2 separate regions of the Homo sapiens genome follow, and region 2 is linked to region 1. A link means that fine-mapping ties the variant in region 1 to the expression of a gene that starts in the linked region. Tissue or cell type: sun-exposed skin. Region 1 holds a variant in brackets; the other region holds the start of a gene. All regions are shown on one strand. Distances are between the middles of the regions.

Region 1 (2,684 bases):
CACCTGGGGCTCAGTTCCAGGCTGGGGACGGTTTTTCTGTGCACAGGCTGCCCCACCCTCCACCCACAGGACACCCTCACTGCTGTACATGGAAGGGATCCAGGTGTCCCCTGCCTACCGCCTTCCCTCCTCTTCTGCCTGTCCCACACCATCAAAGATGATCAATGGGGCAGAACCCTGAATCCAGCCTCCCCGCTCAGCCCTCTCATGGTTCCTTCAAGCTGTCCCAGCCTTATCAGCACTTCCTTGATTTGGGGTGTGACCCCCTCCAGAGGGGTCTCTGTGACTCAGTTGTAAGACAAGAAGAGGAAAGGCCCCATGCCCAAGCCCTGACTGCCCAGGGAACAGAGCCTCAGAGGAAGCCCCCAGCCAGGAGCACCAGAGCTGGGCAGGAATGAAGAAAGGGCATCCGCCTCCCACCCCCAGCCACTCACCTTCCCTGTTACAGGCCGGGGGGCTGAAATGTTCCTTGTTCTGCTCAAGATCACGTGGCTTTTCTTAGTCCGATTAGGGACAACAGAGAGACAAAAGTTAGCCTAACTTAAGCTCACATTCTCATTAAAGGGGAATTGGATAAAATGCCATCTTCTTGAAGATGCCACAGTTTGTTTTTGTTTTTGTTTTTCTGAGACGGAGTCTCGCTCTGTCACCAGGCTGGAGGGCAATGGCACGATCTCGGCTCACTGCAAGCTCTGCCTCCCGGGTTCAAGTGATTCTCCTGCTTCAGCCTCCCAAGTAGCTGGGACTGCAGGCACGCTCCACCACGCCCAGCTAATTTTTGTATTTTTAGTAGAGATGGGGTTTCACCGTGTTGGCCAGGATGGTCTCAAACTCTTGATCTCATCATCTGCCCGCCTCAGCTTCCCAAAGTGCGGGGATGACAGACGTAAGCCACCACCACAGTTTTAAGGAGATGGACGTAAAGCGCTATGAACACAACTCACAGGGGTCTGAGTTCAGCTTTCCTGGTGAGGCGAAATGGGTTGTCTGCATGGGATGCGACCTTCTCAGGGAAAACCCATTCTTTGCTTGGAGATCTTTCTCTTCTACCAACTCCATGCCTCTGCTATTGTAAACATCTTTGCAAGCCTGATGTTTTTCCTGTAGAGTGTGGTCCTCTCCAAGGCCGCTGTGTAGCCCAAAGTGGGGGTTAGTGAGGGAATATTTCCCGCGACGTTCTCACCCCCGTCGACTGCATCAGGAAGGGCTTCTCTGGGGTGTCACACCGGCAGTTATTTACTCCTTGTTCAACAGCATGATGAGTAAGGAA[A/C]GCCGTGTTCAGACTTTTGGAACATCTCAAACTTATTTTTCAAACTTTTAGACAATAAAATAATCCCAAATGTATTTTGCCAGAGACTTCTAACCATTTGTCAAATCACGTGTAATTCCAGGGAAAAGTCAGCCATGTGTTTCTGATTCATTTGCACTGGGATCTTCAGGCCACGGAAGCCAGTGCTTGGTGGGGAGGCGCCACGGAGGCTGGCCAGCCGGTCAGAGGCCAGGGCAGCAGCTCCAGTGTCAAGACAGCATGGGTGGCCTGGGGGTCGTGCCCACCCACTTCCCACCACATGCACCTCCTGGGGTCGTCCATGGTATCGGCCTCATCATGATTCCAATGCTGCCTTCAACGGGTTCTCTGTGGGGCCAGACATCCAGATCCGGGGACCAGCTGCTATCGTGGGGTTCAGCGGTCCCAACGCCAAGGAGATTTCTCTTTATGTGCAGTGGAGGCAGCGTGGAGCATTGCTGTCAGAGCTGGGATCAATACCGGTCTCCGTCCTTGAACCTCTGAGCCTCAGTTTCCCTCTCTATCAAATGGGTGTCATAGTGCACAGCTTGCAGCTTTGTGAGAGTCTCGAGTTCTCATGCATGGACAGTTTCTTAACTCCTGGCTCTGTCTCCCTCCCCGGGCTCCCTAGGGAAGCAAGAGTTCTTCCTCCTTTCACCCTTTCAAGCTCTCTGCAGAACATAGGTTCTCCCATCTGGATTCAAATGTTGCTTTTACAATGTATTAGCTGGGTGGCTTAAGTTAGGCAAGTCACTTCATCGGTTTTTAGTTTCTCATCTACAAAACGTGCATGGAATAGAACACCTGCCATCTTAAAGGACCATCCAACAGTGTCTCTGAGGGTCCCGCTCCGTGCAGCTGCTGCCCAAGGCCCTGAGTGATGGGAAAGTTTAAGGGACACCAGGGCACTGTGTGGATGGAAGCAAGTCTAGACACACCTTCTCACTGCTAGGTTTCACGAAGGGCTGTCCAGGGCCCTCTGCTCGGATGGAAGGAACCTGCCTCCAAAGGTGAAAGCACCTTTACCCCAAGCATCTCAGGCTCCTCTCTCCAGCTCACTGTCCTTGCGCGGTGTTACCTCCACGAGCTTGTCTGCCACAGCAAATGCAGACCCCACAGTGTGAAGGCCAGCTCCCCTGTGCTCCATGCCCCAGCTGCTGCAGGATGACCACACCTTACAGCCTTTTGGGCTCCATTTTACACCAAAAAAGTAAAATAATATTATGGCTTTGCAAGTTTCCTGAAAGGATAAAAATAGAGAAGACATGGAAAAGTGCTTTAGAAACTATTTTAAATTCTTTACAGAGAAATGGTGTCCGTGAAAGTAGGCCCTTCTACCTCCTGCGTGGGGTGTGTGGGAGGGTGGGAGGTAAGAAGGGAGAAGAGGTGACCAAGT
Region 2 (2,684 bases), 260 kb before region 1:
TCGGAGCTGCTAAAGAGGGAGAAAACCAAGTTTTCCAGACTCGGTTCGAAAACTAAAGAGGCCGCGCGAGTGGAACCCGCGGCCAGGAAGGGAAGTCCTGCTACGCTACGCCGGGCCGACCTGCAGGAACCCCGTGGGCCTGCCCGGGCGCCCTGGCCGAGCCAGGCGAGTTTGCCCCCGACCTCCAGCGCGGGCACCGCTCCACGGGCCTGCTTCTGCGGCCTCTCTGAATTCACTCGCTACCCGCTCCCTGGCCCGGGCCTTCCGCTTTCCCAGGCCGAGATGGCCCAGCCGTCACCCGCCCGGCCTCCCAGCCCTCTTGCGTCCCCGGGGGCCGCGGCCTCGGCCACCGGGAACCTGCCCCCGGACCTTTCTAGTTCCTCTTCCGGACCAGGTCCACCCGTAGTCTCTCCCTCCCGGGCGACCCGCCACCCTTGCCCTGGCGCGGGTGAGACAGAGGAGAAGCGGGGGAGGCCGGGCGCACTCACCATCTGCGAGAAGAGGCTGAGATCCGCGGCGTAGGGCAGGAAGGCGCTGTAGTTGGGCGCGCCCGCGTACGGCCCCGCCGCCGCGTACATGCCCAGCACCGAGGTGACTGCAGCCGCGCCTGCCCCGCCGCCCAGCTCCGCGGCCCCCGGTCGGCCCGACGAGGCGGCGGCAGCCGCCGCAGCGGCCGCGGCCAGCACCCCCGGGCGCTCGCCGCCGTAGGCGCCCGGCCCCGCGGCGCTCAGGTACTGCGGGTAGCCCAGCTGCGGGAAGGACATGTCCGCGGACTCGGCGACCGCCGCAGCGGGCGAGTATTAAAGGCGCGGGGAGGGAGGCGGAGGCCGGCCGGAGGGGGTTGCAGGGGGCGCCGCGAGGGGTCTAGGGAGGAGCGGGCGGCCGGCCGGGCGCGCTCGGGCGGGCCGGGAGATGGAGGCCGGTCGCGGCTCCTCTGCCCGGTGCTCGCAGGCGCCCGGCTCCCGGCTGCGCCCGGATCCGCAATCGCGCGCCGACTGCGGCGGCCGCCCTCCGCTCGGCGGCGGGGCTTTCAGACACAATTTGAAGTTGATGCTTTGATTGGCATCCCCTTGAGCGCAGGCCCCGCCCCTGGCTCCCCTCCCGCCCCCTCCCTGCCTCCCGCCCGCCCTCGCCGGCCGCTCCCGCCCCTCCCGCGAGCACGTGGTGCCCCGTGCCGGCCCGGCCAGCTACTCTCGCGGTGGGCGCGCGCGTCGGGGCGGCGGGGTGTGGGCCCGGAGGCCGTGGGCTCCTTCCCGACCAGCCCCCGCAGCTGTCTGACAACCTGTCGACACGGGTTTACAGCTGTCTGACACCGGGTTTGCAGTTTCGCGGCCGAGGTGTGTCCCCTTTTTAACAAAAACAACTTGGCGCCTGCTTTTCTACTGTTTGGGCAGCGGGGAAGGGGCCGGCGGCCTGGACGCTGGTGACAGCGAGGGGGGAGCGGCCTCTCCCCCGAGTCCCGCGCGGCCGGGGCCTCCAGGGGACATCTTTGGCAGAAGTGCACCCGGACGCTCTCCGCGAGCCACTGAACCGGCGTGGCGTGACACCCCCGACTCCAGATGCGGGTTCCCGTGGGCCCCTACTGGGTAGTAACCGATCGTCTGCCAATGACCGGCCTCGCCGCCCTTGGGGAAGCGGGGAGCGGCCGAGCTCTGCGGGCTCTTTCAATTGTGCAAACTTTGAGCGAGGGCAAATCCCGCGGAGAAGTCGCCAGCTCGGGGGAAGCAGGCGCAGTCGGCGCCGCGGGTTCTCGGAGGGAGGGGTGGGGGAGACGCGGGGGGAGGGGCTTTCTCTTCACCCAGAAAGCCCCCTGGCAGCCGGAGGGAAACATCCCCCGCGCCCCCGCGAAGGGGGAAGACGGTGTGGCCTGGACGCCCGGTTTGTCCACCAGGTGTGCAGAGGCAGACAGGAAACTTGTGTGGAACGCGCGAACCCGAGTCGGCGCCGCCGCCAGACCGGCAACGGAGCGGCCTCTTGGGTCCAAGTCCCGCGTCCCTCTTCTCCCTGCGTCTCCCCTCTCCATCCTCAGCCTCGTCGGGCTACAGGACGCGGCCAGGCGCGGCGCACTTGAGATGGGCTCCGTTTCGCCGCGGCCCTGGCCGTGCGGCTCCCGGGAGAAGATGCCAAGTGCACGGGCCTCCTCGCCTCCCTGAGCCTGGGAAGGCGCTGGCAGGCCACTTCTGCGCCTCGTGGCTGGAGAGCTCCGGACGGTGCCGTGGGGAACCGGGTACCAGTCCCGGCTCCCGGGGCCACTTTGCGAACCACCTCCTACGCAGAGACGGGGCCGGGAGTTCACCCCGCTGCGGCTCTCCAGCACACCGGACTCCGCGGGAATTTCAGCAGCGCACTCTGGCGTCTTCTCGGCTTTAGGCCGGGTTGGGGCTACGGGATGAAGGCGGCCATCGGGCCAGAGTCGGCATGCTGTTCTGCTGGTGGTTTGAGCCACCCGTATCCTGGACACCGGCCAGGCGGTCCCTTCACCCCCTGCCTCGCTTCCCTCTCTTCACGGAGCCTCGAGGCCCAGGGACTTCAGCAGCATCAGGAGGGGCTCCGGTTTTCCGGGCCTGAGGACAGACACTGAGACATCGCCTATAATTAGCAACAATAATGCCCGTGATGGTAGTAATTACTAATAACCAGCTCCGACATCGGGCTTGATTTTTCCCTGCTCTGAGTCAGATTGT

Evidence for each region. PIP is the estimated chance that this variant, and not a neighbour inherited with it, causes the effect. A credible set is the group of variants that fine-mapping cannot tell apart.
Region 2: IRX1 starts here. The variant in region 1 is the best candidate, but not a certain one, in a credible set for the expression of IRX1 in sun-exposed skin (GTEx, PIP 0.89).

The regions. Positions count from the first base shown.
Region 1 is chr5:3,335,667-3,338,350 of GRCh38, reverse strand. No RefSeq gene overlaps it. Among named protein-coding and RNA genes, the nearest start is that of LINC02162, 120 kb to the left of the region's middle. The variant A/C (reference allele first, on the strand shown) is at 1,271.
Region 2 is chr5:3,594,186-3,596,869 of GRCh38, reverse strand. IRX1 (iroquois homeobox 1) reads right to left here and starts at 1,038. Exons shown (of 4, transcript NM_024337.4): 1 at 489-1,038. The coding sequence starts at 764. RefSeq lists a silencer at 1,041-1,335.